2 separate regions of the Homo sapiens genome follow, and region 1 is linked to region 2. Evidence: fine-mapped expression QTL. A gene starts in region 2. The other region holds a variant in brackets. All regions are shown on one strand. Distances are between the middles of the regions. Region 1 has its middle 40 kb from the start of TSPAN13. Region 2 holds the start of TSPAN13 (tetraspanin 13).

What was found. PIP is the estimated chance that this variant, and not a neighbour inherited with it, causes the effect.
Region 1: its variant is the best candidate, but not a certain one, in a credible set for the expression of TSPAN13 in whole blood (INTERVAL, PIP 0.71).

Annotation. Positions count from the first base shown.
Region 1 is chr7:16,710,822-16,716,206 of GRCh38, reverse strand. No RefSeq gene overlaps it. Among named protein-coding and RNA genes, the nearest start is that of TSPAN13, 40 kb to the left of the region's middle. The variant G/A (reference allele first, on the strand shown) is at 3,090.
Region 2 is chr7:16,750,726-16,756,110 of GRCh38, reverse strand. TSPAN13 (tetraspanin 13) reads right to left here and starts at 2,356. Exons shown (of 6, transcript NM_014399.4): 1 at 2,081-2,356. The coding sequence starts at 2,143.

The sequences.
Region 1 (5,385 bases), 40 kb after region 2:
AACATTAAAGATGCAGAACTTCTGAACAACACTATCAACCACCAAGACCTCATCCATATTTGTAGAACACTCCACCCAACAACTGTAGAATACACATTGTTTTCAAGTGCAAATGGCATATTCACCAAGATAGACCATATGCTGGGCTATAAAACAAGTCTCAATAAATTTAAAAGCTTTGGAATCTTACCATTTATGTTCTCTTACCACAATGAAATTAAACTAGAAAGTAATTAAAACCACATATTTTAAAACTCAAATATATGAAAATTATACAATGCACTCGTAAATAATTCATTGGCCATTGTCATTGCTCAAAATATTTCAAAGCCATTTAGCAGGTACAAGTTATGACGTGAAACAGGTTGTGATTTGAACAAAACGCTAGAGGCCAAAGTGAACAGTTTTTCTAAAATCCATGAAAAAACTTTAAGGTTGGTCCAAAGCAAGATACATGATCAAATATCTCATCTGCTATTTTATCCTCAGCATCAGAATTTTAAAATCCTTTGTTGCAAGCTAGTTAGCCTGGTACTCTCCTATCTAGGCTGCTAGAAGCATATACACAGAAAATTCATCTTTCCCTACTCTGTAGCACCTGTGTTACTCTCTATTCTCTGAAAGTTTTAGATATGTTGTAAATAGTCATCTCTTAGATTTCCTTGTATTTAGAAAAGTTGTTTTTTGGTACTACAACAAAAATTGTTGTTTGGTTGTAATTGTTGGTGAGCACACTGGAAAAAAGAAAAAAAAAACAAATACATTTTCACTTTATTGCTCACTAAGATAAAAAAATCAAGAAAGACCAGTTTTAGGACTATACTTTTCACTGTGTTCCCACACACTTGGGAATGAGTTCAGATTAGCTGTCATACGGCTATAGGGCACTAACATCTTCTATCCTCTTACATCAGGTAAAACCCACTGAAGGATGCCAGGACATCTTTCTCCAGAGATATTTGCCAGTTTTAATCAGCTTTCAGGAAAAATGAAATCTACCATCTCACTAATCCCTTATCCTGTGCCAAAGCCTGGTCCTGCCTCAGTTCTTGTCTGCTTGCCCTTATGTCCCCTTGGGAATGTGTTCCAAGATGTTTTGACACCTGAAGTTTGGGTTAGGTCAGTGTTCCTAAGCCCAAGCTTGCATCCAAATCACCAGGAGGGCTTGTCAAAATAGATTGCTCAGTCCACCCCCAGAGTTTCTGATTTTGCATGTCTTGGGGGGATCCTGACAGTCTTCATGTCCAGCTAGCCCCCAGGGAATATCAATGCTGCCAGTCTGGAGACTACACTCAGAAAACCATGAGGATTTCCTGCTAAAAAGAAAAGATAATGCTACGAAAAGGTCTAAGATTCCTCAAAGGATTTAGTTGGTTGTAAAACATCAAGGACTGCTTCTTCCCTGGGGACTAAAAAATAATAATAATAAAAAAATCAAGACTATTTGAATTGAGACATTTCCCACTCTCCTGTGCCTCTTAAAATACTTTAAAAGTGTTTTATTTTATTTCATTTTATTTTTTTATTTTGAGACAGAGTCTGGCTCTATCACCCAGAGTGGAGTACAATGGCTCTATCTTGGCTCACTGCAACTTCTGCCTTCCGGGTTCAGGCTATTCTCCTGCCTCAGCCTCCCAAGTAGCTGGGACCACAGGTGTGAGCCACCACACTGGCTAATTTTTGTATTTTTAGTAGAGACGGGGTTTCACCATGTTGGCCAGGCTGGTCTCAAACTCCTGATCTCAGGGGATCCACCCACCTCGGCTTCCCAAAGTGCTGGGATTATAGGCGTGAGCCACTGTGCCCAGCTGAAAAGTATTTTTAAAAATACAAAATAAAAATACTTGAAAATACTTAAAAAGTAAAAAAAAACTTTAGGATTTTATGGGAAAAAACCCTCAGAAGCAGAAAGTCAAATATCACATGTTTTCACTTTCACAAGTGAGAGCTAAACAATGGGCACACAGGGACATAGAGTAGAAGAATAGACACTGGAGACTACGAAAGGCAGGGGTGGGACTGAGGGGTGAGAAATTGCCTGTCGGGTACAATGTATGCTATTTGGGTAGTGAGTACACTAAAAGCCCAGACTTCACCACTGTACAATCTATGCACCTAAGAAATCTGCACTTGTACTCCCTAAATATATAAAAATTTGTAACAACTTTTAAAAAAGAATAATTGGCATTGTTACAGAGCCTGGTTAGACAATCCTCACAGTAAAGTTCTTTTTGCTTCCTTTGAAAACAAATAATAAGAGAAAGTGTCAGGAGTATTTTATAAATAAATTATGGGCCCACAGTGTATTGGCTCTGTTCCAGGGAATGACACAATCAATAATGATGTGTCGTTGTTTAGTGCATTAATCCAAATTCTCATGAAGTAGCAGTCAGGCTGTGGCTCCAATGCTGAACTTGTTAAAGAAGGTATAGGAAAAATTTAGGATGAATTTTTGATCAACTCTTTAAAAAGGATTTCTTTTTTTTTTTTTTTTTTTTTTTTTTTTGAGGCGGAGTCTTACTCTGTCACCCAGGCTGGAGTGCAGTGGCGCAATCTCGGCTCACTGCAAGCTCTGCCTCCCAGGTTCACACTATTCTCCTGCCTCAGCCTGTCGAGTAGCTGGGACCACGGGCAACCGCCACCACACCCGGCTAATTTTTTGTATTTTTAAGAGAGACAGAGTTTCATCATGTTAGCCAGGCTGGTCTCGATATCCTGACCTTGTGATCCGCCCGCCTCAGCCTCCCAAAGTGCTGGGATTACAGGCGTGAGCCACCACCTTTGGCCTAAAAAGGTATTCTTCTTAACGCACATTCACTCACTTAGACATTCGAACTTTACGGGACACCAACTTCCTGCCAAGCTATGTGCTACGCTATATGGCAATTGCAGATACAGAGTTGAACAAAATACAATCTGTCTCCTTAACTGAAGACATAACGGACTTCAGAAAGTCAGCACAGAAATGGAGCTTAGTAACCATTCGGCCCCGCAGTTCTCCAAGTGTGGTTCTGACACAGAATAGTGTCATCCGGGAACTTGTTAGAAATGCAAATCCTTAGACCCCAGCCCTACTGAGTCAGACACAG[G/A]CTGGCAGGGGTGCAATCAACTGTAACAAACCCTTGGGTGATCCTGATGCATGCTGAAGTTTGAGGATCAGCAAGGTAGCCCAGTCATATTTTACTTTCCTTAGGTCACAGACCACTGACTATCTGATGAAAACAGAGTTTTGCAGATTACTTTGGGTGGCTCACACTATTGGTTCAAGGCTGAATCCTGTCCAAGCTCTTATTTTTACAATTAAGCAAAGTAAATACCAAGAGTTAAGTGACTAGCTAATTAGTTTAACAGCAAATTAAATGGCAGAATGGGGTCTTCGCACTCAAGCCAATCAATTCCAAGTTCCTATCTCTACCCCTTCACTTACAACAGCAGCAAAAGTCAAATGTGGGAAGAAGTCCAAAGGACTGAAGCCACAGTCGTTTATGATTTCATTAAAAAAAATCTATCTTGCCCATAAAGATGTGACTACTTTTCCAGAGAAGACACGGATGATTTTTTTTTTTTATGATGAGGAAAACCATGTGCTCCAAAGATTATCTCTGAAAAACAGATATGTACCTAGAAATTATTCTCTGCCAAGAACATAGTGCAACATTCAGGCTCATTAAAAAATAATGTTCTCATTTCACCTGTTCCTGCTGAAGGAGCTGGGCATTATTGTTGCTAGGTCAACTGTGGCTACTTAATCACACACCAGAAAACAACTAAACACAAAGAACAACAAAAAAGGTAAAACAAGGTTGAGTAAAAGAAGACATTAACAAAATAATATTAAATGCATCCATTTCAAACACAGGCAAAAATAATCCAGGATCATGATTTCTTGGGTGGAGGCTGGGGTTGGGAGAGGTAGGAGGAGGCTAACGTTCAATTTCTTCACTGGATCGCTGATTACCCAGGTGTGCTATTTCCATTCAAGCCAAAGACTTAGATGCACTTTTCTATATGTTGTATGTCAATAAAATAGTTAAAACGCACATAAAACCAAGATGTAAAGGTTTCAATCATGCAAAGATTAGTTCTAAAAAGGTGTTTTATGTGGAAGAAACATTTTACACCCATTTATTCCACAAGAAAAGGTGTACCAAGGTATATACCGGGTGTAGGGTATACCAGGAGGGACTTTGAAGTCTATCATTTCTCAAAAGTACAGAGAGCAGAAAGGAAATAATTACCATTAGTTCAGAGAAGATGTGGTCAGAAACACTGAATCAGCATGAGCTGGGAGGTGTTTTAGAAATTAGTAATGGGACGCACATTGTCTCAAGCCAAACAATTCTATGACTATGCAAGACATGATATGTTTCACGATTGTTGGTTTCTTGGTTTGCAAATGAAAGATTTTTATTTCCCTCTACCCCAACAAAATTTTGCAAATTGGAAACTGCTGAATTCCAGAAGTTTCGAAGTGTAGCGTTCTATTTTTAGACACTAACATAATTTTAAATTTCTTACTGAAATGATACTGCCTTGAACTATGCCCAAAATGGGAGTAAAATGTATTTAAAAGTATACATGCAAATCCAGAAAGTGACATCACATTGTGTTAAAATGTTCAAACCCTTTAAGCCAAATTCCATGTTTTTTCTAAATAACCATAGATGAAGAAAAATTTATATAAAGGTATATTTTAAATGCTAGTTTTTAAAAGCAAAAAGTTAAAGATACCTTATACAGAATTCTGGAATAATTAAATAAATTGTGACCCTTCTGGACCAAGAACAATGACATGTTCAAAAATCATGTTTTTGAAGAATAGTTATTGATATTGTAAAAATACAGAGTATGATTAAGGAGCAGGATATAAAAATAATATAGAATAAGCACATTAATTTTAAAATTATGAATGTATCAGATACTCTAAAGAAATCTAAATAGGTGTGAAGAGTAAAAAGAAAAATTATTATTTCCCTTTCTTCGTCCCATCACTGTCCAAGATACATGCAGAAATAACATTTATAACAATTATTAGATAATATTTTCTCTTTTATGTATTTATAAGGGTAAGGTATACATACACATAACTTTTTTGATGAAAAAAACATTCTTTAAAACTTGCATTTTTCCTTGAACAATATATTATTAACATCTTTTTTAGTTTACCTTAACTTAAAATCGCTATCTCAAGTTTTGTTTGGGAAAAATACTTCGTGCTAGAAAATGTCAAGTAGTATTCTAAAACTGTTCGAGTCATAGATTAGAAATGCATATCATGGGACCACCCTGCTTAGCTGCTTCCAGATTCCTGACCTACAGAAACTATGGCAGAAAAAATGTTTAAAAAATGTTTATTGTCTAAAGCTGCTAAATGTTAGGGCAATT
Region 2 (5,385 bases):
TCACTTGCCTCCACTTTAAACTGCTGCAGTTATTTAAGCCTATTTACAATGTAAAAGAAGCAAGCAGCCACTAATTCATTTTAAGAAATGTCCCTTTGTCTAAAAAGTCTATGATTTAAAAGGGCTAGCCATTTTTATTGTCCCGTGAATTTCCAATTCATTAAGTTTTACTGCATAGCTATTAAAATCAATAGAACACACACTTTGAAGGTCAATAATTTAGAATAGATATTAAATAGTCTTAATATGTCCCTTTAGAATCACCTTTCTTTCGCCTCACTTTCCTGATATACTCTAAATACAACTAAAAATGATGTCTAGAAAGCAAGGAACTTCATTTTAAAATAACTTGCCTTTTTAAAAAAGATTATACATTGATATAGACCCTTCAGTGAAGTAAGTATGCAAAGTAGACATTCCACTCTGTGTAAGCAGGCACTGTAAGACTAAGTGTCTGGCAAACAGATGACTAAATCATTGGCAGAAAAAAAACAGAACTCAGGTCACAAAATAAGGAATTTAAAGTTCCAAGCAGGCCACTCACACTGATTTAAAAAAAAAAAAAAAAACCCTAGAGAACTGGTCAGCATTTACTTAATAAACAGCCAGGGTGATAAGCATACCTCAGGGTGATACAGATGAATTTTGATCTGAAACTTGACATGTATCTCCAAGGAACTGTATCACCAGGTGTTCTAAAATTTTTTTCCCAAGTCTACTATTAATGACCATGTTGACCAGATTCTTACTAACTAGCCATAAAAGCGTACTCAATGCCTGTTTCTGTCTTGCCTTCAAAGCTTGCAGTCATGTTCACATACAAAGGAACAGTAAAGGTAAAATGACCCAACCTCCTTCTCCTGTTGGTGACCACAAGGCAGCCTCTCTATTCCAAGGAGGTAATCTAAGCTTGCACAGATGGCCTAGCTCTCTGCTAATGCAGGGGTGCTGGGTTTGTTTTCAGGGTGGGTGCTGCAAAGCGCCAGGTATATTTATAGAAGGGAGCAAGACTACTATGGAGGGATGATGACAGAAGAGGAAGTTTCTTCCGCCCGGTAGAGACAGCCTGTGGAAAGATCTGGATTCCACAGCCTAGGTTCCACTCCTGACTCGTCAACTACCAGCTATGTAAACTTACTAAAACCTTTTTGGTCTGTTACCTTATGTATAAAATGCAGATAATGCCCCATTCCCTCAGAAGGTTGTCAGAATGATGAACGAGCATTGTGTATGTAAAACCTGGGACGTGATAGGCATTCAATAAATGTCGATCTGTCCTGCCCATCCTCCTGTTCACCCAGAATTGCGCCTCAAAAAATCACAAAGAGAGCCTGCAGCGTTAAAACTAAGAGGCCCAAGCTGGTTGGCAGGGAAAGAAACGACTTGGGTGGGGGCTCGCTTATTTCCTGGAGGACTTGGTTTAAAATGGAGTTAGGATATTGATCATGGACAAGACACACAGAAAAAGCACCAAGTACTAGCAAAACTGACAACAACAAAAACAAAAAGACATCCCTTTACTGTGAGCACGAAACAAACTTCGGAAGCAGCGGACATCCTGTGAACCTACTCAGTGGCCTCAATTAAAATCCCGAGGGTACCAAGAGCTAACCCAGAGGCACACCAGCCATATGCCGCCTCGTCAGTTTCAGGCCACGCCATTCCGCAAAACTGTCCGCAAGCCCTGACGGCTCTCGCGCCTCCACGCCTGGCCCAGATGCGTCTGGATGTCAGGAGCGAGCGGCAGAAGGGTACGGGGTGGGAAAGCGGAGAGGTCCGGTTGAATGTTTGAAAAACAAGGCGGTGGGTGAGGGGGCGGGGTGGAGCAATGTGGCAGAGACGCGGCCAGCGAGCCTGAGAGACCGCGGCTTCACAATGAACGAAAGGAAGAGACTGCGACAAGCGCCGGCGCCCGGTCCCCGGCGGGGACGGATGGTGAGGCCGGGGGCGCGCAGACGTGGGAAGCCGGGAAGGGGGCGCGGGATGCAACGAGTGAGTCGCTGACCAGGCAGGGAAGCCAAAGAGCTCCCAAGCAGGTGCAAAGCCCCCAAGCGAGCAGGAACGGACTGGGGATACTCACGGTGTAAAGCAGGTTGAGGGCGCACAGGCAGTTCTTGGAACACGCGAAGCCCCCGCAAACCATCTTGGAACCTGTGGTTGCCGGCAGCTGCACGTAAATTCGACTCCGGCGGAGGTTCCCTGACAGCTGCTTTGTCCTTGCCTTTGGGGCCTGGCCCAGGCGGGGCAGCAACGCAGACGTGGGTGGGGGGCCGGGGCCTGGGGCTGCAGTGCGCGGCGCGCGCGCGGCGGCGGCTCGGACCCGCTTTGGAACCTGCGGCCGCCGCAGCTGAGCCGGAGCAGGAGCCCGAGCCCCGCCCAGCCCCTTCGTCTCGCCCCGCGCGCTGATTGGCCGCTGGCAGGGAACAAAGGTAGAAATATGCAAATAAATGCGCTCCGCCGACCGGGATCCGGGAGGGGCGGAGCGGTCCCGGGGCGAGGGGGAGAGGGCCAAGGCCGTGTGGGAGGGAGCCCCAGGCCAGAGCGGCGGCCTTGGTGTAGTTTCCCCAGGAGCAGGTGAGGAGGGAGGGCGGGGCTCGGAGGAGATCCACGCTGGCAAGGAGAAATATGACAGCACCTCTGGATTCTTGGCCCTGGCAGATGACGTGGCACCATTTTGAATGAGATTTCAAAACTAAGCACCTGGCCTTGTTTGAGGGAAGGAAGGCAGGAAGCAAGTAATGAATGAAAACATGTGAAAGATTTAAAAGAGAACGAAGTAGAGGCAAATGAAAGGGAGAAAATAAGTGAAACAATAAAAAATAAAATAAAATCCCTGCTTCTCTCAGAAAATAAGATATGTGCCCTATAATTGTGACCTGGACAGGTCAGACTTATCCTACAAAGATTTGCAAAATACTAATAAACTTTATGAATACATGCATGCAAAGGAAAATCAAGAGCGGGAGAAGGTGGGGATGGTTAATAGGTCCAAAAAAATAGAAAGAATGAATAAGACCTACTATTTGATAGCACAATAAAGTGACAATCGTTAATAAGAACTTAATTGTGTATTTTAAAATAACTTAAAGAATGTAATTGGATTGTTTGTAACTCAAAGGATAAATGTTTCAGAGGATGGATACCCTATTCTCCGTGATGTGCTTATTTCACATTGCATGCCTGTATCAAAACATCTCATGTACCCCGTAAATATATACATCTGCTACGTGTCAACAAAAGTTTTTTAAAAAATTTTAAAAAGAAAATCAAGAGAGATTATTTTTGTGTTCTGGTCGTGAATTTCAATAAACTTATTTTTTCACAAAAATAACTGAAAATCTTCAAATAACTCAGACTTCACCTCAATTAATTCATTATCAGTTTACTGCTTCTCTACTATAGAAATGCATCTTGTATCCTTAATTCCTCACCTATAAATTGAGATTTTAGAAGTATGTCAAGCACTTTTTGCATAGTGGCTGGCACAGGGGAAGGCCTCAATAAATGTCAGCTAGTATTCATAGATCTGACATTTTGTAAAGGCCTACTGTGTTCCAGGCACTAAGCGAAGGCAATAAAGGTTTATTTACTTCATAGTAGTTTCTACCAAAGAAAAAGGTTTTATAAAGAGATTTGCAAGTTTACAATACTATATCTAACCTAAAGGTTCATACGGAGTAAATTATGTAATTGCAAATGCTAAATTGTATTAAATTAAATTAAACATTGCAGCTGATTAAAATAATTCGTCTTCTTAGAATTCTCTGCTCCCTCTTCCAGCCTCTCCTTCCCTCCCCTGACCCCACCATACCAACAAGACCTCATTAATTTGTTAGGCTTTCTATTCCACATTAACCTTTTATATACAGCTAGAAATATTTCAAAAACTAACCTGGAAAATGATCCTCAAACACAAACAATGCTTTGATGATGCTCAACTTTCCTTTTTAATAGCCAGAGGTTTACAAAAGATGAGGCATTGGCAGGGAAATCTATTCATTCTCTTCCCATTCCTGGGTGTCACCAACATTAGTACCACTTCAACTATCACTCAACCAACTATTGCAACTCTCTCTTTGGCTTCTGCATAATATCTTCACTATCTCCCTATAGGCTGAATCACTTTGTTTTCCCAGAGAAGTACCACCTATCAGTCAGGGTCCCAGCAAAAAGGAGATGACTCGTTCAAATAGCATAACTGAGAAGAATTTCAAAAAGGGACTATTTTCAAAAGTGTGGACAAAGTTAAAGGAAACCGGCTGGGTGCGGTGGCTCACACCTGTAATCCCAGCACTTTGGGAGGCCGAGGGTAGTGGATCACCTGAGGTCAGGAGTTTGAGACCAGACTGACCAACATGGTGAAACCCCGTCTCTACTAAAACTACAAAAATTAGCCAGGCGTGGTAGCGGGCACCTGTAATCCCAGCTACTTGGGAGGCTGAGGCAGGAGAATCACTTGAACCCAGGAGGTGGAGGTTGCAGTGAGCCAAGATCGCGCCACTGCTCTCCAGCCTGGGTGACAGAGTGAAATTCTGTCTCAAAAAGAAAAGGAAACCAACAAAGCATGATGAGGCAGCTCAGAGATAGTAAGAGCAGGAAGTTCTAATTACCCCTAAGACTAAGGGGGTGATTTAAGGGAACAGTTACAGAAGCCAGGCAAGAGCTATAGTTGTAGGAGAGTTGTCTGATAGGAGATACGGCTTTTGATAGAGGAAACAAAACAATGTCTGAAAATAGGAAAACAAATGGACATGTTGCAATTTCTCCTGATTTGGATATAGAAATTTTCAAAAGACCATTTGTTCCCACCCTAATAAGAACAAGCAGTCTGGACAACATAGTGAGACCCCATCTCTACTAAAAATTGAAAATATTAGCTGGGTGTGGTGGTGCATACCTGTAATCCCAGCTATCCCAGCTACTCAGGAGCCTGAGGGGGAAGGATTGCTGGAGCCCAGGAGATCAAGGCTGCAGTCAGCTATGATGGCGCCACAGCACTCCAGCCTGGGTGCAGACCAAGACCCTGTCTCAAAGTAAGTAAAAACAAGCTAGATAAGCTACCAAATCATACTTACAACAAAAAACTATCGAAGAACTGAGGGGCTAAAGGCACTAGAGGAACTAAAATCCAAGAAGTGATGAGACATTATTAGAGGGGGAAAAAAACTCATAGTCACTTTCATCTCTTATAGACTGGCTGTGGAAGGGAGAAACTACCTTTGAGAGGGATAAGGAGAAACTAAATGACTATTTAACCATCTTCTACTGCCCCTACCTGGACTATGTGACAGTTTATAATCCAGAGCCCCAGCTACAGAATGACTGCAACTATTTGCCAGCTCTAACCCATGGGCTTTCTTTTAAAACAAGACATATAAGCTACAA